Linked DNA regions of Homo sapiens. The protein of the gene in region 2 purifies or fractionates together with the protein of the main gene of each other region. This does not show direct contact. Each region holds a gene or a part of one and is shown on either strand. Other genes may lie near its edges. The genes, in order: NRGN, NUDT6, MMAB, GLDC and BOLA3.

Region 1 (3,786 bases), on a different chromosome or scaffold from region 2:
GAAGCAATTTTTTGGTTGTGAAGGGAGAAATGGGCTCCTCATGGAGGTTCCTGGGCTCCACTGAGGAAGAGCCCTTCCTCCCAGCAGTGTTGTATAAAGTAGAGAAGATAAATGGATGGTGGGTTCTGGGAAATGAGCTGGGGGGAGGGGAGAGGTGAGGATGACAGGGGAGTATTGCTGGGGAAGGGGAAGTGGGAGACGTGGTCACTGGAAAGAGGTGAGTAAACAAAGAATCCAAGAGGCCAGGGAAGGAATGGAATTGGTCTCCTCTGTGTCTGCAGTAGTAATTAGAGTAGGATGTGGGGGTCCCTGCCTGGAACTGTTGCTCTTGAGTGCCCAGGGAGCCATACTGAGGGATTAGTAGACATGGTTGAAGTCAGTGTCCCTTAAAAAAGGAGAGGCTACCCACCCAAAAGGTAAAAGAGAAGCAGATACACAATTATCTCCATGGCCCAGGGCCTGGGGCACCTCCTCCAGTGCACCCTGTGCACAGGAGCCTTCCCAAGTCATGCCCTGTCCTAGGTCTGCAGGGCTAAAGGGCTGAGCAAGAGAGAGCACCATTATCAGACTGTGCAGGAGGGCAGGAAGAAGAAGGAGTGATGTGTGGAGGGTTGGGGAAGGGCAGGGCTAGGGGTGGGCATTTTCCTCCCCTTTCTGTGGAGGGCTGGACTCAGTGCTGGGAGAGAGCTGAGATGTGTGGGAAGAACAGCATACCTCTTGGGGGCTAGAGGCAGGTCCTTCTTCATCTTTTGATTCTGGAGCTCTCCTCACTGACCGCATCACCTGGTGTTTGGGAAGAATCTAGTCCTGTCTTATTCCCGTTTCTCCTTGGTACAGAGGCTCAGATAGAAATGAGGAAGAAGAAAACAGATCTGCCTATTTTTTTAAGAGACAGAGGAATGGTTTTTTATTCATGCTGATTCAAATATTGCAGTTGCTGATTTACATAGCCATATATATATATGACTTTTCCTGCATTCACCGCGCATGAAAAAGCGCATGAATTTTTTTGGATCCTCATTTCTTTTGCTTAGTCTAGTTGGCTTGGCCCTGCTGAATTCATAGAAATAATTACCTGCCCTGAGGCAGTGGCTAGCAGCAGAGGCTACTGAATCCCATCACTTCACTATTTGTCAACTGAGTGACCTTAGCTAAGTTACAAAATGTCTCAGAGGCTGTTTCCTGACTTCCAAAATGGGGATTAAATGAGGTAATATATGCAAAGCGCTTAGCACAGGGCCTGACATAATAACAAGCAGCAAGCAGGGGATATCCTTAAAGCTATTCGGATTTGGGAGCTGAAGGAGACTTTGTTCATTAGTTGTGGCTGAAGAAAATGAGACTCTCAGAGATGAAGTGATGTGCCCAGTTGGGACTAGAAGGCTTGGACCCCACTTTGCTGACCAGGGCACCTTCCACCTCCTCCTCCCTCCCAGAAGTCCCTACTTCCTATGGAACTGTCAGGCACACACCAGCAACCTTGGCTTTGGAAAGCACCAGCCAGGCACCATGACCAATGAACCTCTTCCCAGGTCCTTTCAATCTCCTTCCACTTCCACCTGTGGACTGGCCACCTGGCAGCTCTGTCCTGAAAATTCAGCTGGTAGGAGAGGGAGCTGGTTCTGGGGAGGAACATGGAGTGTCGGGGGTGGCTTTGCCTGCTATTCCAGGTTTCCATTCTGGATCCAGCTGGGGCGGGCGGTGACAGCAGGTCGGGTCTAGCGTGGTTGGAGGCAGATATCCCTTCCTCCACTCAACCTTCCCACTCCTCCACAGCTGCGAGGCCAAGGAGGAAAGGTAGGTCAGGAATGCTTTTTTATGGTTGTCACCCTCTTGAGAAGAAGCCTCACTGTTCCCTGAGGATATCCCAAGAAAGACTTGAGCTCTAAGAATAAAACATTCCAAAGGAGTCTTTTCTGAGCACCCTAGACCTGTGTTTGGCCTTTCCACAACCATACCTGCCTTTTTGTAACTCTTTTTTTCTTTCTGTTTTTTTGACTCTTCTACCAAAATGTAACTCCTTTTAACTGTGTTTAAATCGATTATGGGCATCTTGAGCACGAATTGAAGAATGTGAAGCCCAGGAAATGAGGCTAACCTTGGGAAACATGGCGAGGGGAACCATTTATAAGCCGGGGCTTGGGCATCTGGAGTTTAAGCTTGTGGTCCTGGGGCAGAATCTGGCTAGGACAGTGATCACTGAAGCCTTCCTCATATCCTGTCCACTTCTATGAACCGGATGGATGATGGCAGGGAGAGCTAATGTGCAGAACTGAATTACCATTATTATGTGAAACCTTGGTCATCTCGTGTCCTAGAAGAAAAAGATAGTCAAAGCAGTGGAAGACTTCATGAAAAGAAAAAAAAAAAGAAGGAGGCAAATTCCTAGAAGCCAGTGAGCCAGATCAAAGGAGAAATGTCCTTCTAACTTCATAGTAACCATCCCCATCCTGACCCACACTAATACTGCAAGTAATGTTAATGCAACAAAAGGGCTCAGAGGCTGAATTCCTCTCCGTTCCATAGCCTTTCCTCTGCAATCTATACCATCAATCCCCTCACGCCTTCTACTTTCAGCCAGGGCAGGCTGTCAGAGAAGCAGAAACCTAGTTTGGGGCATAGAGGTGGGCCTGATTATTATTAGGTTGAACCATATGAAATTGTTATTATATGACCACTTTTGGCCTACAAAAATGACTATTTCACATTAACTTAATGTTATTTTTAAGACAAGCATAAAAGCTACCATTTATTGAGCAGCTAGGTTGTGCAAGAGACTTTATGCATATCATGCTGTTTATTCTTCCCCACGACCCATAGAGGTGGATACCATTATCCTGATATTTTAGAGGAAGGAGCTGAGATAGGAAAAGATTAGATAACTTGCCGAAGGCCACACACCTATAGCAAATGGTAGACCTTGGCTGGTTGACTGGGCTGCATTTTCTTATCCTACAAAGTAGGGGTAAAAATATATATTCTGGACTCTGAAATACAAAGGTTTGAATCTTGGGTCCACTGGTAACTGTCCGTATGACCCAGGTAGGTTTTTAAACAGTCTAATCATTAGTTTTATTAGGGGTAATGATAAAAAGGTACGTAATAGCTTTATTTTGGGGGACTAAATAAAATAATGCCTGTAAAACACCGTTATTGCACCTGGAACAAGGTAAGTGCTTAAGTGGTAGCTATCACCATAATTCCCTTCTTCCTCATAAGCACACCCTGGAAAGGGCTTCTTGCTCCTGCAGGTCTTTTCATTTTCTTTTCTTTTTCTTTTTTTTCTTGGAGTGAAGCCTTTTCTTTATCACTTCATCCAAATCATCTCCTATCTCCTGTGTTTGAGTTCATCCTTGGGCAGTGGAAAATGAAGAGTCAATGGGAAAACAATCTCTGGGCCTCTAGCCTTAGGTCGGGGGAGGCTGGCTCACTGACTAGTATCCCCATCCTCTCCCTAATTCCAGCTGTGAGCTTTCTGCATTTCTACTGGGGAGAGGGCTGGCGGACTGAGGCTTCTCCATCCTCTCCACGGAAAACCCTGGACTCAGACTGGGTCCTTCTGAGCTGGAGGTACCCTCTGAGAGCAGGGGGACAGGCGGCCACTCCAGGAGTGCCTGCTGCTGTTTTCCTTGCCCCTCCAAACCCACCCTCCAATCAGCTCTGCAGACCCCTAACTCGGTGCTGGTGATGGGCCTGGCTCTCCCGCACCCAATCCTGCCTGCACTTCTCTTTCCTGAATTGAGACATGACTGTCCACCTGGCCCTGAACCTTCTTCGCCTGTCGCT
Region 2 (4,902 bases):
TTCTCTTTCACTTTTACTTCTGACTCCTGAGCATGAAAACATCTGATCCCTAATCACGGTACTTCTCTGGGAAATATTTGTTGCTTCTAGTCACCTAGACTCCTTATCTTGGTATCCAATCCTCTTCACATTGTTTCCAATCTAGCTCTCAAGTCAAATATCTTACCACTGTCCATATTCTGGGCCACACTGAACTTTTTACCATTATTTCTAAACTATGTCAGTCCCTTTCTGAGCTCTGTGCCTTTGTATAAGCAATTCGAATTTTATCAGTTTGTTTTTTATTTTTTTTCTTCTGCACCTGGAAAGCTCCTACTCATTCTTCAAGACCTAGTTTAAATTTCACCTCCTTTGAGAAGTCTTTGGGGACTTCTTCAGGCAAAGTTAATTGCTGTCATCTATTGTATGACTGTCTTTCCAAATAAATAGTAAGCTGCAGGGCATAAGGTATATCGTCTTACTGCTTTTTATATTCTCAGCACCTGGCACAGAGTAGAAACTCATTGAATGCTGAATGAATGGAAGAATATCTTGGTAATATATTAAAGCAGACTTGTCTTCCCAATTAAATACAGTCATTTATAATTTTCCTTTAGCCATAAAGTAATAGATAGTAACACTGAGTGTTACCTGGAAATTTTCAAGGTCTGTATAAGTAGTTTGGTTTAAATAAATATCTAAGGTGATCCATAACTGCTTAGAAATGATTTTTAAAATACCTTTCTATAACCCCTTAGGCATATTAAAATTTCTATATTTTATTCTTCTCTAGAAAGAAATAAACATTTAGGAAGCAATTTATAAAACAGAAGCAGCTTACTTTATTTCGATCTTGTACAACCAGTATTTTTCTAGTACTTTCATCAAATACAGCTCCTATTAGGGGAAAAAGAAAAGATAATTGAGAAATATTAATTTCATTCACCTTAATCTCCTCCCACACTCTCTATCTGTGGTGATAAAAATTCTACCCATACTTGAAGCCTTGGTTCAAATACAGGTTGAGTATTCCTTATCTAAAATGTTTCAGAGCAGAAGTGTTAGATTTTTCTGGATTTTGGAATATTTTCATATACATAATGAGGTATCCTGGGGATAGGACCCAAGTTTAAACATGAAATTCATTTATGTTTCATATACACCTTATACTCATAGCCTGAAGGCAATTTTATACAATATTTTAAATAATATTGTGCATGAAAACAGTTTTGACTGCATTTTGACTGTGACTTGTCACATGAGGTCAGGTATGGAATTTTCCACTAGTGGCATCATGCCAGTGCTCAAATACTTTTGGATTTTGCAGCATTTTGGATCTTAGATTTGTAGATTGGGGATGGTCAAGCTGTACCACCACCTCATCCATGAAGACACTAAGTGCCTGTCTTAGTCCATTTGGGCTGCTATAACAAAATAACCACAGACTGGATAGTTTATAAACAACAAACTTATTTCTCACAGTTCTAGAAGCTAGGAAGTCCAAGATCAAGGTGCTGGCAGATTCAGTGTCTAATAAGGGCTCATTCTTTACAGACGATGCCTTCTAGCCCTGTCCTCACATAGTGAAAGGGGCAAACAAGCTCCTGTAGGCCTCTTTCATAAGGACACTAATCCCATTCATGGGAGCTCTGCCCTCATGATCTAGTCACCTCCCAAAGGCCCCACCTCTTAATACCATCACATTGGGGATCAGGTTTCAACATATGAATTTTAGGGGGAACAAACATTCAGACAACAGATGTGCTTACAATATTTATTGAATAAATGAATTGACTTCTCATTTTTATTCCTTGAATCACTATGCATACAACACAGGCTGTGCCCCCTGATGATCCAAATCTCAAATATCTCAATATTCATTTCAAGACCTTTCTGAAGCCAATTAAATTTTCTTATTATGTATATACACAACTTTATAATCTACTAATATACTGCTTTGGAAGAGTTCTTTGTTTTATATATGTTTTAAGTTCTAGTTCATTTTTTTTTGTTTATTCATTCATCATACACATTGCATATTCTCTCTTTCTTTTTAAAAATATTTCCCTTTGGGCAATCTTGGGTCAAAAATACAAATGACGTATTAGTGATTTTTATTATGATCTTTTAGATGTTATGATTTAAACATTACTTGTATTTAAATAATGTGGGATGACATTTTTTAAAAGATACTTTCTACATATTTGTCCATGCTTTCAGTATTAACTGAGTTCCTCTATATAATGTACATAGATCCTGTGCATATTAATTGAGCTCCTACTATGTGCCAGGCACTTTTCTAGGTGCTACAGATACAGTGGTGAACAACACAAATGAAACTCCCTATCCTTATGGGGTTCACATTCTGGTATGTGTGTGGGGAGGCGCCAAAACAAACAAAAAATAAATTATATAGAATATTAGAAGGTGATAAATGCTATGTAGAATATAGAGAAGGAATAAATATGTGTAACATGGGGAAAAGTAATTGAAATGCAATTGAAATGAAAACACCACACTTGACTATTTTAAAGCAGGAAGGAAAATCACCAAGTGAGATATAATTAACATTAATGTTGGCTTCTATTAGAAAATGTAAGCTATAATTTAACTGGACTTTACAAGAGGTAGACTGCCAAAGAAATGCCAAGGAAACTTACTCTTAAATTTTAATAATTTGTGGTTACTCAAATTGAACTTGTCCCTAATGAATTCACTGTAAACATGAGCACAGTATCAGAGACAAAACCAGCACCACTAAAGCACAATTTGAGCGACCTCTGCTGGTCACAACATAAAAATTATTATTATGATTAGGCACTGTGCTTCAACGTACATTAGCTCAGGTATAAGTCACAATAATCCTGTGAGTGATATGAGTGTCTGGCTTCATATAGCTCTAACTGGTAGAACTGGGACTGATAGCCAGTCTGTCTGGATTCTAGGCAGGCACACTCTTCTCACTGTGCAATGCTGCCCCTCAACAATACTGAAACTTCTCTCTCAGAAGACTCACATTTCCATCCCATTCATTAAAAAAATATTGAATATCTACTTTATGTCACTCGCTGTCTTTAGCTTGAGGATATCGTGGTGACCAAGACAGATAAAATATCTGCCTTTATGGAGTTTATATTATTGTGGGGGAGATTAAGTGATACAATATAATTAATTTACATACATGATATAATAGAGTTTCAGACTGTGATAAATGCCATAAAGAAACATAGAGCTGGATAAAGGGACAAGGAATGATGGCACTAGTGTGCAGGGAGAAGTCACTTCTAACAGAAGGGTCAGGGGCTTTTCTGAGAAGGAGACACTTGAGCAGAAACTTCGGCTATGAAGAACTAGATAAAGAAAGTTCTGGAGAAGCATGCTGCAGGAAGAGGAGCCAGTAGATGTCAAGGCTCTGAGTCAGACACAAGCTTGCTAAGTTTGAAAAGCAAAAGAAAGCAATGGCTCCAGCTATTCCAGCCACATCTGCCTTCGGTAGTTTATAACAAATGCCAATTATTTTTCTTTCCACCTAAAAACTCTGCACCCCAGCCTGGGCAACATGGCGAAACCCTATCTTTGCAAAAAATACAACAATTAGCCTAGCATGGTGGCGCATGCCTGTAGTCCCAGCTACTTGGGAGGCTAAGGCAGGAGGATCACTTGAGCTAAAGAGGTGGAGGTCGGAATGAGCCCAGATCATGACACTGCATTCCAGCCTGGGTGACAAAGTGAGACCCTGCCTCAAAAAAAAAAAAAAAAAAAAAAAAAAAAACAACTCTGCACCTTTCCAGAACAATTTCTTACATTACCTCGTCCACACCCCCAACAGTGGCTTCAAATCCTAGTTAGTGTTCAAGATTGGTCAAGTTCTGCATCTCTTATTCTTTGAACTGCTCTGACACTCTAAACTATAATGTACAATATACAATATAGTACTTAGTTATCAACAGGCCCTTCATAGGATACTCTTTTTGCATATATTACCAATTCTGTAGTAATAACTGGGAACTCTTAAGAGTCTGTGCCCGTGAATGATAATTATTTGCATAACTTTCCATTGAAGTGTGAGGCTGTCACTAAATTATTGAGTAGAATCTTTTGAAATAGAGCTGAACGGAGAGTTTCTGAATGTCTACTTGCTACAGGGAAGTAAGACAGGGACAGAGAAGACATCATTAGGCATTCTTGAACAACTCCTTGAAAAGCCTTGAAAAGCAAACTACCTTAAAAACTCTTGTAAATTATATAAAGGCAAATAAAATTATTAATTAAATAACTAATATGCTTCATTGCTTTCATTTATTAAGGTCATAAGGATCCCTTACTATTATAGTTTTTCTAGAAATCTAAGAATTTTGGTCCTTAAAGGGTAGTACTGAGACCACCACCAGCAGCAGCAGCAGCAGCAAAAACAGAAACAGCCAGGAAGATCACCTGAATTTTCAGGTCCCACCATAGACCTACTGAATCAGAAACTCTGGGGATAGGGCCCAGCAATCTGTTTTAAGATTCCAGGTGATTTTGATGCAATCTACAATGTGAGAATCTGTGTCTTACTCTGAGGGAAGTCTTCTCTCAACTTTCCTATGTCTCTGAAGCTAATCAGCCACTTCAAAATTCTACTCTACACTTAAATTACACGATTTTAAACAACTGTTTGGCACAATAATGTAAATATTATTAAGAAGTAATTGTTCAAATCATTGAAAAATTGGTTTGCTTTACCTGAAATTCAACATAAAAATGATCATTTACTTTACAAATTTACATAATTAGTGCCAACATGTTTTACTCTGCAATAAATTTATTCCCTGATCCCAATTCAGTGCTACTATTTGAGTAGTGAAGTTTAATTATATGTGTAAAATATATTCAAGCATATCCTTTGGAAAACTAAACACTAAAGTTGTTCTCTGTGCGTCT
Region 3 (4,902 bases), on a different chromosome or scaffold from region 2:
TTTTATTCTATTTTATTATTTTTTATAATGAGTATATATTACTTTAATAGTTTTTAAAATGCTAGAACATGTTATATAGAAAAAAGTAAGATGCAGAAGAATGCGTTGCTATGATCCTTTTTTTTTTTTTTTTTTGATACAGGGTTTTACTCTGTCACCCAGGCTGGAGTGCAGTGGCTCAGTCATGGCTCACAACAGCCTCCACCTTTCAGACTCAAGCAATCCTCCCACCTCAGCCTTCTGAGTATCTGGGACAACAGGCACACATCGCCATGCCTGGCTAATACTTTTTAATTTTTTTTGTAGAGATGAGGTCTTGCTGTGTTGCCCAGGCTGGTCTTGAACTGCTAGGCTCAAGGTATCCTCCCAGCTCAGCCTCCCAAAATGCTGGGATTACAGGAGGCATGAGCTACCGCACCAAGACAGTATACCATTTTTTGTAGTACAAAAGCATGCAGACCACTAGTATGTATTGTTTTTTGGATATATACTTGTATAGTAAAAGTATAAAAGCATGTACGGGACATACTCAGTGCCACTGAATGGTAAACTTAAGAAGGGTCAAAATGGTAAAATTTCTGTTATGTATCATCTGTTACCACAATTAAAAAGAAGGAAGAGGATGTTGGAAAGGACTTATTGTAGGGTTGGGCTTGTGTTGGGTGGTTACAAGGAAGTGGGGCTTTGTTCTGGATTGAATCCTGTTAGGAAGCAGGGCTGTTTCTGTCACTGGGTATCTTTTTTTGTTTTTTGAGACAGGGTCTAGTTCTGTTGCCCAGGCTGGAGTGCAGTGGCACGATCTCAGCTCACTGCAACCTCCTGGGTTCAAGCAATTCTTATGCCTCAGCCTCGCGAATAGCTGGGACTACAGGCATGCATCACCATGCCCAACTAATTTTTTCTGTTTTTAGTAGAGACGGGGATTTGCCATGTTGGCCAGGCTAGTCTCGAACTCCTGGCCTCAAGTGATCTGCCCACCATGGCCTCCCAAAGTCCTGGGATTACAGTGTGAGCCACTGCACCTGGCCTGTAATTGGGTATGTTAATAATTTGTTTCTAGAAGACAGAAGGGACAAAGAGGTGCTAACGCTGTAATGGATAAAGATGCAGCAGTCACTCACATTAGCCAGGGAAGGGGGAGGTTTGGTCATCTTTTGGAGTTTGGACACAGTCGTCTGTGCTCAGACGTTCTTCCGCAGTGGCCTTGTCTTGGTCTCGAACCGTCATAGTCATAGAGTGGCCTGTCTGATGGTTTTCTGTGAAATGGTTTGTGTTCAGCAGAACACCACAGTCTACCTGTGAGTGCCAGGCCGGCACCTGGCAACCCCAAAGCCTGCCCGATAGCGAAAGCCAGCTCCAAACTGTCAGGGGCAGTTTTCACTTTCTCAGAGGTTGGGGGAGAAAGGCGGGACTGTGAGCTAGGCAGAGGCACAGAGGACTTTGACTTCATGTGAAATATAATGGTAATGTATATATGATATAAAATATAGAACGTGTTGTATTTCTTTATCAGGATGGTTAGTATGTGGTTTTTAAGTTGAAAAGCACATCAGGAAAGAAGTGAGCATAGTGGCTAACCCTTGGGGAGTGGCAACTAAAAGGGGTTACATGGGGGCTTTCAGGGTGTTGCTCATGTTCTGTTTATGAAGCTAGGTGCTGATCAAGGAGGTATATTCAGTTAGTAGTAATTCACCAACTTGCACACTTACGATTTGAGCACTTTTCTGTGTATATGCTATATTTCAAGTTGAAAGTTCTTTAAGGGGTGGTACGGTGGCTCATGCCTGTAATCTCAGCACTTTGGGAGGCTGAGGCGGGTGAATCACTTGAGACCAGGAGTTCAAGACTAGCTCGGCCAACATGGGCGAAAACCCGTCTCTACTAAAAATACAAAAATTAGCCGGGCATGGTGGTACACACTTGTAATCCCAGCTACTTGGGAGACTGAGGCATGAGAATCACTTGAACCTGGGAGGGGGAGGCTGCAGTGAGCCAAGATCACGCCGCTGTACTCCAGCCTGGATGACAGAGTGACTGTTCAAAAAAGAGAAAGTTCTTTAAAATCTTTGAAAGTTTAAAAAAAAAAAAACAGCATATCAGGAAAACAGAATCTTAATTTGGGTGGCTAAACATTTTTTTCCACAGGGTTTTCTAGTACCTTCACAGGAGAAAGGAGACCCAAAGATGACCAAGTGTTTGAAGCCGTGGGAACTACAGATGAATTAAGTTCAGCTATTGGGTAAGGGGGACAGGATTGGCCTTGAGGTTGCGTTTGAGTCGAGTATGAGTAAACGTAATGAATGTGAAGCTCTCACGCATGCTGGGCAGCAGCCTCGGAGGTTGTCAGCCCTTATTGAACTTTCCTCAGCCCTGAAGCACAGGCTGGTCAGCTCCACAAGGCTGTGGGGCTGCAGACTCCTTTCCCTTCTGGCCCTGCCTGTGCCTGCGCTGGCCTCTGGCCCATGCCATGTGAAGCTGCCTCCCTCTCATCCCTCACTTTTCAGGTGAGCCTGTGTGTGCCACTGAGGTTAGTATACTGAGTGAAAGAGGTGAGTTAGTATAATGCACAGTACATCCAATGTGATCCCTTTTGTGACTGTTGTTTTTTACATAAGCCAAAGTTTAGAAGGTGGACTCAAGGATGGACCAGATCAGGATGGGCCAGGTCATGCTGTGATCACAGACAACCCCAAAATCTCCTGACTTATGACACCAAAGATGGACTTGCTGTTCCCACTTCATGCCCATCACAGGGTATATTCTTTGGCTCCATGCGGCCTTCATTCTGGGACACAGGCTGCTAGTACAGCTGCTGCCTGGGGCAATTATCAGTCATTGTGGCAGAGGGAAAAGAGGTCATGGTGAAGCTCACATTGGCTCCTGACGCTGCCAGGGGATTGTGCAGTGTCAGTGTTGTCGCCAGTGAGGTTTACCCAAGATGTGATTATTGCTGATTGAAAACTTTTCCCACTACCCCACCATGATGACTTGAAATATAGTCAACATTGGCAGTTTTTGACAGTCTTTATGGAGACTAAACTTTGTTGGTAAATAAAAGTTGAAAAAAAAATGACTAGGTGCAGCGGCTCACATGTCTAATCCCAGCGCTTTGGGAGGCCGAGGTGGGAGAATCACTTGAGCTCAGGAGTTTGAGACCAGCCTGAGCAACATAGCAAGACTTCATCTCTACTAAAAAGAAAAGTTAAAAAATTAGCCAGGCGTGGTGGTGCACACCTGTAGTCCCAGCTACTCAGAAAGCTGAGGCAGGAGGATCACTTGAGTCTGGGAGGTTGAGGCTGCAGTGAGCCATGATCGCACCACTGCACTCCAGTCTGGGTGACAGAGTACGACTCTGTCTCCAAAAGACAAACCTTTCTTGGGAATGATGCCTTCCATTTATTCACATTTCAGCGGCCAGAGCCTGTCACGTGCACATGCCTGACATCAGCGGGGTAGGAGGGGCAGCAAATATTTGCAAGCAGGAGCACAGTCTGCCCAGCATGCCCTACAGGCTGGTGACAGGGGGAGCAGCAACAGTCTCAGGTGCTGGATCCTGAAATCTGACCCCGGGGCCCTGGGGTTATAGGTGCATGGGAGCCAGACAGACCCAGCTGCAAATTTTCAGCACCGCTGCTGATTGTCTCTGGGACGTCAGGTAAATCACGTGGCCTCTGTGAGCCTCAGTTTACGGTTCTGTCAAGTAGTCATCATGATAATTCCCATCTCACTGTTCTTGTGGGGCTTAAATGAGATGATTCCATGTTTCACCCTGAGGACAGTGCCTAGCACAAGTAAAAATAATGTTAGCTATTATCACTCTTCTTTTTTTTTTTTTTCCGAGACGGAGTTTCGCGCTTGTTGCCCAGACTGGAGTGCAATGGTGTGATCTCGGCTCACTGCAACCTCTGCCTCCCGGGTTCAAGCGAGTCTCCTCATTATTACTATTCTTAACACTTACCTGTTCCTGGCTACCATTTCTCCATGGCGGGCCTGACTAGGTGAGATTTTCGGGACAGATAATGGGAGGTACAGATAGTCAGCCAGCCGGGTAGAGAAGGCAAACAAACCCCTTGGTGTGTGTGGGAGGGGGTCCAGAAGAGGGCAGACACAAGACCAAGTGGGCAAAGGGAGAAAAGGCCAGTTCTCGCATCAGCTATTCTAATGAGCTCTAAAACACGAGCCATCGTCTCTCAGTTGAGGAGGAGCGGGAGGTTGGAGAAACCTCAGTTGTGGATTCTTCCTTGGTCAGATATTGACCAAGCATCTGCAGTGCGAGGCGCTGCTCAACAGAGAACCTCAGCCCCGCCTTCCTGAGCTGCAGAGTGCAGGGAGCAGAACCTCAGCCCCACCTTCCTGAGCTGCAGAGTGCAGGGAGCAGGCAGCACTCACTGGGCAGCTACGAGGGTGGGAGCAGGCTTGGGGCAAGTGCCCAGGGTGGGGCCTGCCACTGGCCTGGTCACGGGGCATCCCTCGGCAAGCAGGTACTTCTGCACACCTCCTGTGAGGCAGGCATGGGGCATCCGCTATGATGGAGACAGACTGTGTCCCAGCCTGCACAGCCCTCCCTTTGGTCCAGAGGGGAAGACACACCAGACGGGAATCACATACTGGTGTGTTTAGTTCTAACTGTAAGATGTGCCAGGAAGATGGGCTGGATATTCTCCATTGGCCCTTTCAAATCCCTTCTCTTCACCTTCTCTTTATGCATGGGAGGCTGACCTTATCACCTGGTGGCTGTGCCACCTCGATTCGTTGGTCTTCTGGCATTCAGGTGGGTCCAGCCAGTGGGAGGCACCAGTAGGTGATAGGAGAGTGAGTGCAGAGAGCTCATGAGTGTGTGTGACCCTGTTCCCCAGTGGTGCATGGCTCTGGTGGCAGCTGGGCTCCCTACCTAACTCCCTC
Region 4 (4,283 bases), on a different chromosome or scaffold from region 2:
GCTAAGTTGGGGAGAACATTGCCATTCAATGGATATGGAGTCCTCTCTGAGTTTTAATGACTTGTTTTTGGAAAAAAAGAAAAAAATCTTTTAAATTTAATAGTTTCACTACTGCATCATAATGGGAATCCCATGTGTGTGACTCACTCCTCTCTTGAATGAATGATCTTATTATGCAGTTACACTGATAATAGATGGGAAAGCCAGAGAAAGGCTTCATTAATGAAATTACCAATCCCATCCTCAAGATCTCTGCTTGGCAACTCTTGTAACCTGACAGTAGAACTCCTTTCCCCTGACAGCCTCCCGGCTAGCGATTGGGTAATGGCCGACTCAGGAAAACACACTCACTTTGTGGATGCCTTGCCTACTTCACACATCTAACTGCAACAGCATTTGCAAGGAGAGAGAGGAGGGGCTCACAGGGAGGTGGTAACTGAAGTCACCACCCAGTGTTTCTGAATCATGTTGTCTCCTGACCTCAATGTTGTTTTGAAGATTGATAGAACCGTTTCCACACTTGTCCAAAAGCCCAGAATTGTCCAGGTGCCTGGCACATAGTAGGCACTCAACACATAGTGTTAATAAATGAGAGACCAAATGAATAGCTAAGTCGAAAAACAATGAACATGACAACACAGTTTCCAGGTCTTAAAGCATAACCGCTGAATGTGAATTTTTAAGGAAGAGAGCTGATAATCTGTATATTTAACACGCAGCTTCTGTGTGAGTCTTTTCAGGCAATTTTGGGGCATACTGCCTTACCCAGCAGTTCCAGGCTAATTATCAGACCAATTATCAGAATCACCTGGCATGTTTTATGACTCATAGATTTTTGGACCCTACCTTGGACTTCCTGAATCAGGGCCCAGATGCAGGAATTTCTTTTGCAAGAACTTCTCAGGTGGTTCAAAATATGGGGACCACTACAGCAGGATATGTTGGACTGAATTTGCTCACACATGGAATTAAGGGCAGACGTGATAGGTAATCAGCTTGTTCTCTTAAAAAAAAAAAAAATCCCTGTCTGGTTTGAGTGACAAAGGTGTATGCATTTACCAAAACTCATTAAATGGTACAGTTAGGATTTGTGCATTTCACTGTAAGTTTTATCACAAAAATATGTGAACAGATACTGAATTCTAGTCATGATATATATGCTGAAGGGTTTAAGAGTGAAGTGTACTAATGACTGCAGTGTACTTTGAAATGCGTCAGAAAGTAAGACGGATGGCTGGATGAGTAGATGTGATAAAGCAAACAACAGCATTGTAGAATCTAGGTGGTGGGTATATGGGTGCTCACCTACAGTCCTTTCAACTCATCTGGATGTTAGTGTTTTTTTTTTAATAGAGACAAGGTCTTACTCTGTCACCCAGGCTGGAGTGCAGTGTTGTGATCTTGACTTACTGCAGGCTCACCTCCTGGATTCAAGTGATCCTCCCACCTCAGCTTTCTAAGTAGCTGGGATTACAGGCACATACCACCACACCCAGCTAATTTTTGTATTTTTTGTAGAGACGGGGTTTTGCCATGTTGCCCAGGCAGGTCTCAAACTCCTGGGCTTAAGCAATCCGCTGGCCTTGGCCTCCCAAAGTGCTGGGATTATAGGTGTGTGAGCCACAGCACTTGGCCTGAACATTTTTAAATAAAATGTTGGTAGAGAATGTTTGAAATCATGCAGATGTTACTTTAAAGTACTCCATGTAATAATGATGCTCACCAGAATTTGAGAACCACTGCACATTGGGGCAAGATTAGTTCAGAGGTGTATCAACCTGGGAGTTGTTCTTCAGCTTTTAAAAGTTTCATAGGCCTGGTGTGGTGGCTCATGCCTGTTATCTCTGCATATTGGGAGGCAGAGACAGGCAGATCGCTTGAGCTCGGTAGCCCGGACAACATGGTGAAACTCTGTCTATGCAACAACAACAAAATTAGCTGGGCATGGTGGCGTGCACCTGTAGTCTCAGCTACTTGGAAGGCTTAGGTGGGAGGATCACTTGAGCCCAGGAGGTTGAGGCTGCAGTGAGCCGTGAGTGTGCCAGTGCACTCTAACCTGAGCGATACAGCAAGACCCTGTCTCCAAAAAAAAAAAAAAAAATGCTTTACAGAAAAATTATAAGAAATGAAAATGTTGTTTTTGATTTTTGTCCTGGAAATCTGTCTCTTGACTACATACCTTGTTGCACTACCTTACATGTGAAAACCTTTGGAAACAGAAACACACTGAGCCTGTGTTCAATGTAAAGGCAAAGGCTTTCCACATACTGGCCAAACTTCAGTTTCCTTATCATACAAAATGGGGACAATAAGATTTGCTCCAGAGTCTTTAACACTTGTTATCTCATTATTTAACTTTTGATAAGCTATAATATTTTTATTTCTCTTAATTGCACATAATACATGATAATTACTGAAAGACTCTAAAATACAATCGAAGTGAAAGAAAAATCCCAGTCTCATTTTCCGGCCATATTTAGAGTTAACATTTTATGTTTTCTTCAAGGCATCTTCCCTCATAAAATACACATATAAGTACTTTGTCCTTTTATTTATATATAGAAATGGGATATCATTATGTGGCTTGCTTTTTTCACTTAATATTTTTGAATGTTTAGCCAGTTTAACACATTTATGTACTTTTGAATGGTTGTCTATTTACCATATAGGTGCTCTGTAAAATTTGCTTATCTGATCCCCCATTGTTGGATATTAGGTTGTTTCCTAAATTTTTCTTCTATGAACAGCACTGAGATGAGTCCCCACATACATACATTTGCAAATGTATCTGATGATTTTCTTAGGATAAAATATAAGAAGGGATACGAACTTTTCTTCCAAACTGGGTAGGCCACTGACCTTCAGTGAGGCAAGTTCTCCTGTCTCCCTTTGCAGGATTTCACGCCCCTACCATGTCCTGGCCTGTGGCAGGGACCCTCATGGTGGAGCCCACTGAGTCGGAGGACAAGGCAGAGCTGGACAGATTCTGTGATGCCATGATCAGCATTCGGCAGGAAATTGCTGACATTGAGGAGGGCCGCATCGACCCCAGGGTCAATCCGCTGAAGGTGCGTAGGCCCTGGAACATTGCTTGAAATGTTCCTTAAACTAGAAAATGATGTCTGGACAGTGTACCAGCAACTCCCGAACTCTCAACTGAGGATGATACTCTTCCCTAGAATAAGGTAATTCTTCTGAGAAGATGCAGTTGTTACTTTGAAGTTTCCATCGTCTTGAACAGCATAGCAGTTACTCAAGGATGATGTGGTTGTGGAAGCTGTCCACAGCTGTCTAGTTGGAGAATTTGTAACATTCTGCATCTCTGTTTGATGTACTGTAGTGAGATTATGGCATAAATAAAATTTACATATTCACATCACAAACTCTGTACAAGCACACATTCTTATATTAGAGCAGTTATCTCTGAGAAAACTGGATTGACATTTGGACTGGATGTTACAATGTTTATGCCCCATGTTGGGGAAAAGTTGGTTGGGCATTACTCTGCCGCTTCCAAAACATGTTAATTTTACATCTGGTCAGAGTCCTAAGTTTCTTGTTAGTCCAGATATTAAGCTGGAAGATCAGGAGTGGAGAATACCATGAAGGCTGTGGTTGTGTCTTCATGGCTGTAAGCCAGAGAACAAGTCTGATATGACTGCAGCAGCTGGGGCAGGTTTCCAAACTGCCTACCTGTAGGAGAGGGCAGGGACCAGTGACTTGCAGAAGGCAGGCACCTCTCTAGAGGTGAGTTCACAGAGTCATGGAGGCATACAAGATGATTATGCTTACCACCGTTTATTACTCTTTTCTCTCTGAAGACACCTGCTTCTTTCAGGATTTAGGCTATTTTTTTAAATGGCAATAAACATTTCAAAGAGCATAATAGTGAGTTATAATACAAGTGGATAATACCACTCATATGATGATATCAGATTTTAAAATGAGCCAAATTATGCTATATGCAGTTTATTAACATATGCAGTAATAGTATAAAAGCATGATGAGAATGGTAAACACCGAATTCAGAAGAGTGGTTAGCACTGGGATGGGGATATACAGGCAGCACCAAACGTGTAGGTAATTTTTTCTAAAAGATGAAGCAAATATGACAGAATGCTCATTAGACTTTACTGGGTGGTGGATGTGATGATTATTACCATAACGTTCTGATATTTAAAATATTTCACAATTATAAATCACATTGTACCCCCCTAAATTGAAAGAAAACAACAGCTTTCTCTGCCTGGGCTCCTGTCAGAAGATTGACGGTTGAGGTGCAG
Region 5 (5,348 bases), on a different chromosome or scaffold from region 2:
TCTGGGAACAACAGACACTGGGGAATACAAGACTGGGGAAGGAGGAAGGGGGCAAGGGTTGAAACTACCTATTGGGTACTATGCTCATTACCTGAAGGACGGATTCGTTCATACTCCAAACCTCAGCACCATGCAATATACCTCTGTAACAAGCCTGCATATATACCCCCGATTCTAAAATAGAAGTTGCAAAAGGAAGTCCCTCTACCAATTCTCATTGGTCTGGCTCAGACCATGGGGCCGACCCTAAACCAGTCTCTGATTAGCCAGACTTGGGTCCTGTTTCCATTCCTAAAGCTGGGGATAGGTGCGCCTCATCTAAACCATGCTGTCTGAATAGCAAGGGAATGGTTCACCATTACTACCCTGCTTGAGAAAAAATTTTTTTGACAGTTTAAATTGCATCATTGACAGCAATGAAGAAAACTTAGCAAATCATCTCTAAACATTTTAAAAGAATGAAGCAGAAAATGTAAGACAGGCTAGTAATTGATCCAAAGGAGAAATTCTGAAGGCCAGAACATAGGAGTCAGTTAATACTGTAATAAATAAATTAGACAATATCCATATATAACAACTATAGGTCCAATCCATCCAAGTGCAACGCTGAAGGGACGTATTGATTGCATAGGCCAGAATGTTGGCAAAAAGCTGGTAAATCCTGCAGGGTGCCACCAGACCGCGTGCTGCAAACAAATAACAGCTAGAGAGAGGAGAGGCTTGGTTGAATTTCGGCCTTGACTGGTCTGAAGACTCCAGAGGCGGGACGAATTTGCGGACAGTTCTACCCCATCCCACATGGCGTCAGCTTCCCTTCCATTCTCATGACTCCATGGTCCATGGCTCCAACCTGGGCCTCTGTTAGGCTGTGTCCTGTGGCACCTTAAACTCAGGCAAATTAAGAACTGTTCGTGGACTCTGCTCAGCCCCCACCTAACCCTCCATCCAAGTCATTGTCCAAGCCAGAAACTGGAGTCATCTCAGATACCTTCCCACTCACACCTCCACATGCAGTCGCTCGATTCCATTCACCTCCCAAGTGTCTCAGTTCATTCTTCCATCCCTCCCGCCACTGGTTTAGTTAGGCCCCTCCATTCTCACCTGGACCATCGCGGTAGCCTCGGAGCTTCTGACTGTGTCTCTGGTTGCAGCCCCTACACGCTCTCTTCCTTACAGGAGCGGAGCGATCTTTCTCAAGCGCGAATCAAATCCTTCCACGAGTCCCCGCACCTGGAGCGAAGGCCAAACTCCTCAGCTTAGAAGCTAGACTGCCAGAGTAGGGAGTGGGAATGGAAAAGTACATCAGGAGCACGAGGGGTATTCGGATGAGGGAAGGCCAGTATAGGGCGCCGAGACCTTGGAGTGTTTCTGAGCTGAGGAGGAATGAGACTTTCACGCGGGCAAGGGGACCCTATCCATGAAACAGGCCCTGGGGAGACTGAAGGAGAGCGGCGCGAGCGAAGGCAGAGGGCGGGGCCCCGAGGTCGGCAGGCGCTGCAGTGTCGGGGGTGGCGAGTCAGCCAGGGCCAGGGGATGGCGGGGTGGGGCCGGAGCCAGGCGACCGGAGGCCTCCGGGGCGGGGCCGGGAGGCTGACGGCCTCCGGGCGGCAGGGGGCGGCCTCTCCCACGGCGGCGGCTCTCGGTCCCCCGCTCCGCGTCTTTCGGGCATACAGTGACCTCGGGCGGCGGGTCACGTCGGCCGGGCATGGCTGCATGGAGCCCGGCCGCGGCAGCGCCTCTCCTCCGCGGGATCCGCGGGGTGAGCGTGGGCAGGGTCGGGGCTGCTCTCCCCGGGACGGGAGCTGCGGAGGGACCGCGGGGCCGGCGGCTGTCGGGGCTTGAGGACTGGCTCCCGGAGGGCGCGCGCGGCACTGGCAATGGGGGGCTCCTCTTCCTTTCTCTCATTCATTCTTTCATTCATTCATTCACTCAGCGACAACGGCATTCGAAATTTCAAGCTCTGGCGCGCTCTAGGGGAGCTCCCGAGCTGGGTGGAGGTTGGAGGTCAGGCGGACAGACACATGAACAGTCATAATACTGCGGGCACAGGAAAAAAAAAGGATTGGTTTACCGAGCAGAAGACAGGAGTCATAGCCCAGAGTCAAGGCGTGGGTGCGAGGGACTGCAGCGGGGCCGGGGCCTTGGGAAGGTCGACTGGGCCTCTGACCTTGATCCTCCTCCAAATCCCACACTACCGGAGCAGAACCCAAGCAGGGGGCACTTCCCACGCGCTCTCCTAATCTCTCCCCCTTTCTGAACCATCCTTTGCTTCAGCTCATACCATTCTTTCTCTTAACTTTCATTTTCCTTCTCCCCTGGTTCTGAACCTGCCTGCCCTGTGCATGAAGAGAAGTTCTTCCACTGCGGTGACTTTCAGCGTGGACAGTGATCATCTGGGGATGTCAGTTGATTGTTCCACTAAAGGCCGCTGCCCACAGATCCGCTAAGATGAAAGGCTTCTCCCAAGGATTCTGCAACGCTCACCTCTCTCACCCCTTAGTAGCTGCCGATTCTGTCTGCCATCTGGTTACTCTCTGCCTTTACCCTCAAGATTCTGCCCCCAGAAGCAGCTCCACCCCACCCTCACTCCTGGCAATCCTGTCCAGCCTCTCAACATCGAGTTTCTGTCCCTCCACACAGCAGGCAGACAATCACACTCTGGACCTTTCTCCTGTCTTGCATTTCTGTCCCTAATTGACTAGTTCTTCCCCTGCTCATTCATTCATCCAGCACCAAGTGCCTCTGAGGGCCTGCCCTGGGGTCAGCTCTGGGATGCTGCCGGACTCATTCCTGGCCTATAAGACCAGTGGTGAGAGAGCCAGTGCACAGCTCATTTTAAAGGAGGTGCTCTGAGATTCTGTGACACAGGACCCTGCTCTGAGCTATCAGGAAGGACTGAGGGGTAGAGGGGTGGGACCTTCAGCACCAGCACCCATGAACGGCCCTAGTGTCCTCCAACCTGTCATCCACGTCTAGTCAGGGACCAGTGCCCGGTGCTTCCATCATTGTAATGCCTCTTACTTGGGCATCTCTCCTGACTCGCTCCAGAAGGCACTGTTTCCTGCAGGTTACTTTGGTCCCATGAGCCTGGGTTCTATCACCTGGAGTCCCATCTCCTGTCCCATACAGTCCACAATCTTTAGCCTGGCATTCAAGGCCTGCCACACTCCATTCCCAGTCTGCCTTTTCAGCATGCACTCAGCCCAGCCAAGTGACTGCCGACCTGCTTTTCTGCTCCTTCACTACTAACTGTTGAGACGTGTTCCATCAGAAACATGGGCTCCCCTGGCCGGGCGTGGTGGCTCATGCCTGTAATCCTAGAATTTTGGGAGGTTGAGGTGGGTGGATCACCTGAGGTCAGGGGTTTGAGACCAGCCTGGCCAACATGGTGAAACCTCATCTCTACTAAAAATACAAAAATTTGCCGAGCGTGGTGGTGGGTGCCTGGAATCCCAGCTACTCAGGAGGCTGGGGCAGGAGAATCGCTTGAACCCGGGAGGTGGAAGTTGCAGTGAGCTGAGATTGTGCCACTGCACTCCAGCCTGGGTAACAGAGCAAAACTCTGTCTCAAAAAAAAAAAAAAAGGAAACACAAACACAGGTTCCCCCATGGTAGCCATTGGGGAAGGGGTGTTGTTGCCAATGGTAAACAACCTACAGATACTCCTTCTTCAGGTTCTTTCATAGAATTCTGACTTTGCTCCCAGTGAGAAGGAGTGCATGATGAAGGATAGCTGGCTAATTGAGCAGTGGGCTGTGAGGTCACATCCCACTGGGGAGGGCGAGACATGTTAATCAGGCCTAAAGGCGAGGGAGTGTGGAATTTGGCCCCACCATCCAGGGCAGTGGATGGCCTAGTGGTATGGATCTGAGGCAGGCTATCCAGCTTTTCTGGCTCTGTATCTTACCGAATTCAACCTTGGGCACATTACTGTGTGCCTCAGTTTCCTTACCTATAAAACTATCGGCATAATAGTGTCACAACATTATATGGAAGCAAACATCTCTTGAATTAGGTTTGGGGCCTCTTGTCTCTGGAGTCAAATTGAGTTATTAACAATCATCCTGTCCCCGCCAATAAAAGTTTATTCTGTGTTTTGGGGCACTTACATGGACTCCTGATACCACAGAGCCCCTCTGACATAACCCATGGCTGTGCTGGCGAGGGCTCAGGGGCCTGCCTTGCAGGGGGAATGGCAGGCGGGCCTGCACAGTGGCCCAGCTCAGGGGCAACAGCATCTTCCTCTGCCCTGACCTTCCTCTCTGTTCTGTGGCAGCTTCCACTTCACCATCGGATGTTTGCCACTCAGACTGAGGGGGAGCTCAGAGTGACCCAAATTCTCAAAGAAAAGTTTCCACGAGCTACAGCTATAAAAGTCACTGACATTTCAGGTAAGGTTTCTCTCACTCTTCCTACGGCGCTTGGATAAGATTTTGCCCTTTGGAAGGACAGAGGGTCAGGGGCTTGGAGGAGGGGGCTTGCTGCTGGTGAGTGGCTTCTCAAGATGTGTTGCTGCTGGACAGGTGGAGCTCGGCTGCCCCCACCTCATGGGATGGCAGTCAGGATTCAGAAATATCAGAGGGAAACTGAGGACAAGGCGCAGCTGGGAGGACTCAAGGTTGCCAGCCTGGCTCAGCTCAGACAAGGTCCCTCTCAGTCACCCTAGAGCTGAGGTCCACAGTCTGTCATTTGACTTTGAATAGGTTTTGCTCTAATTTTCCCCCATTCTTCTGACACCCTAGGATATCAGAGCTGGAGTGGACCCCAGAAAGATTTTCTTCAGCTGCTTTACTTTCCCTAAGAGGAAATGAGCCCAGAGAGGCCAAAGGAATTGCCTAGCTCCTCATAGGGAAGAGACAGTGGAACTGGAACCAGAACCGGGACTCAGGGGAGACTCTGTCCTAAGCCCAGTTACCAGCCCCAGCCAAGCGCTGTCCTTCTCAGGTGGCCACTGGCACCTAGAAGTTCAGGCTGGCAGTGTGTTAGGAGCAGGCTGGAGAAGCAACTTCTGCATCCACAGGATGGGGAAGATAGGCCCTTTATCCACACACACACACACACGTACACACAGAACGGCCCGTGGCGTGGGCCGCTGGATAGGCATCAGTCTGAATCTCTCCATACCCAGAGGCAGCCTTTGCCACTCAGCATTGCCATGAGGGCTCACTGACTTTACTGAGAACATAACATTTCCAAGGATTGAGGAGAAAGTTTAGAAAGTAGATTTTATTCTGGAAACCACAGGAAATAAATCAATCTAAAGATCTGCTGGGGTTTTGGAGCAGTGGCTCATGCCTGTAATCCCAGCACTTTGAGAGGCTGAGGCAGGTGGATCACGAGGTCAGGAG

The links.
Region 1: the proteins of NUDT6 (region 2) and NRGN purify together in Homo sapiens (affinity purification with mass spectrometry; 2 studies listed by BioGRID and IntAct, with this or other methods). This does not show direct contact.
Region 3: the proteins of NUDT6 (region 2) and MMAB purify together in Homo sapiens (affinity purification with mass spectrometry; one large-scale study listed by BioGRID and IntAct). This does not show direct contact.
Region 4: the proteins of NUDT6 (region 2) and GLDC purify together in Homo sapiens (affinity purification with mass spectrometry, with the first as the bait; one large-scale study listed by BioGRID). This does not show direct contact.
Region 5: the proteins of NUDT6 (region 2) and BOLA3 purify together in Homo sapiens (affinity purification with mass spectrometry; 3 studies listed by BioGRID and IntAct, with this or other methods). This does not show direct contact.

Annotation. Positions count from the first base shown.
Region 1 is NC_000011.10:124,741,544-124,745,329, forward strand, and holds part of NRGN (neurogranin), read left to right. Parts: intron 1-2,718; exon of another isoform or gene 2,719-3,352; intron 3,353-3,786.
Region 2 is NC_000004.12:122,911,748-122,916,649, forward strand, and holds part of NUDT6 (nucleoside diphosphate-linked moiety X motif 6), read right to left. Parts: intron 877-4,902; coding exon 821-876; intron 1-820. UniProt on the Homo sapiens protein: May contribute to the regulation of cell proliferation.
Region 3 is NC_000012.12:109,566,107-109,571,008, reverse strand, and holds part of MMAB (corrinoid adenosyltransferase MMAB precursor), read left to right. Parts: intron 1-2,145; coding exon 2,146-2,239; exon of another isoform or gene 2,240-2,706; coding exon of another isoform or gene 2,707-2,754; intron 2,755-3,432; exon of another isoform or gene 3,433-3,655; intron 3,656-3,841; exon of another isoform or gene 3,842-3,981; coding exon of another isoform or gene 3,982-3,998; intron 3,999-4,902. UniProt on the Homo sapiens protein: Converts cob(I)alamin to adenosylcobalamin (adenosylcob(III)alamin), a coenzyme for methylmalonyl-CoA mutase, therefore participates in the final step of the vitamin B12 conversion.
Region 4 is NC_000009.12:6,534,849-6,539,131, reverse strand, and holds part of GLDC (glycine dehydrogenase (decarboxylating), mitochondrial precursor), read left to right. Parts: intron 1-2,895; coding exon 2,896-3,068; intron 3,069-4,283. UniProt on the Homo sapiens protein: The glycine cleavage system catalyzes the degradation of glycine.
Region 5 is NC_000002.12:74,144,232-74,149,579, reverse strand, and holds the start of BOLA3 (bolA-like protein 3), read left to right. Parts: upstream 1-1,667; 5' UTR 1,668-1,705; coding exon 1,706-1,759; intron 1,760-4,276; coding exon 4,277-4,391; intron 4,392-5,348. UniProt on the Homo sapiens protein: Acts as a mitochondrial iron-sulfur (Fe-S) cluster assembly factor that facilitates (Fe-S) cluster insertion into a subset of mitochondrial proteins. Probably acts together with NFU1.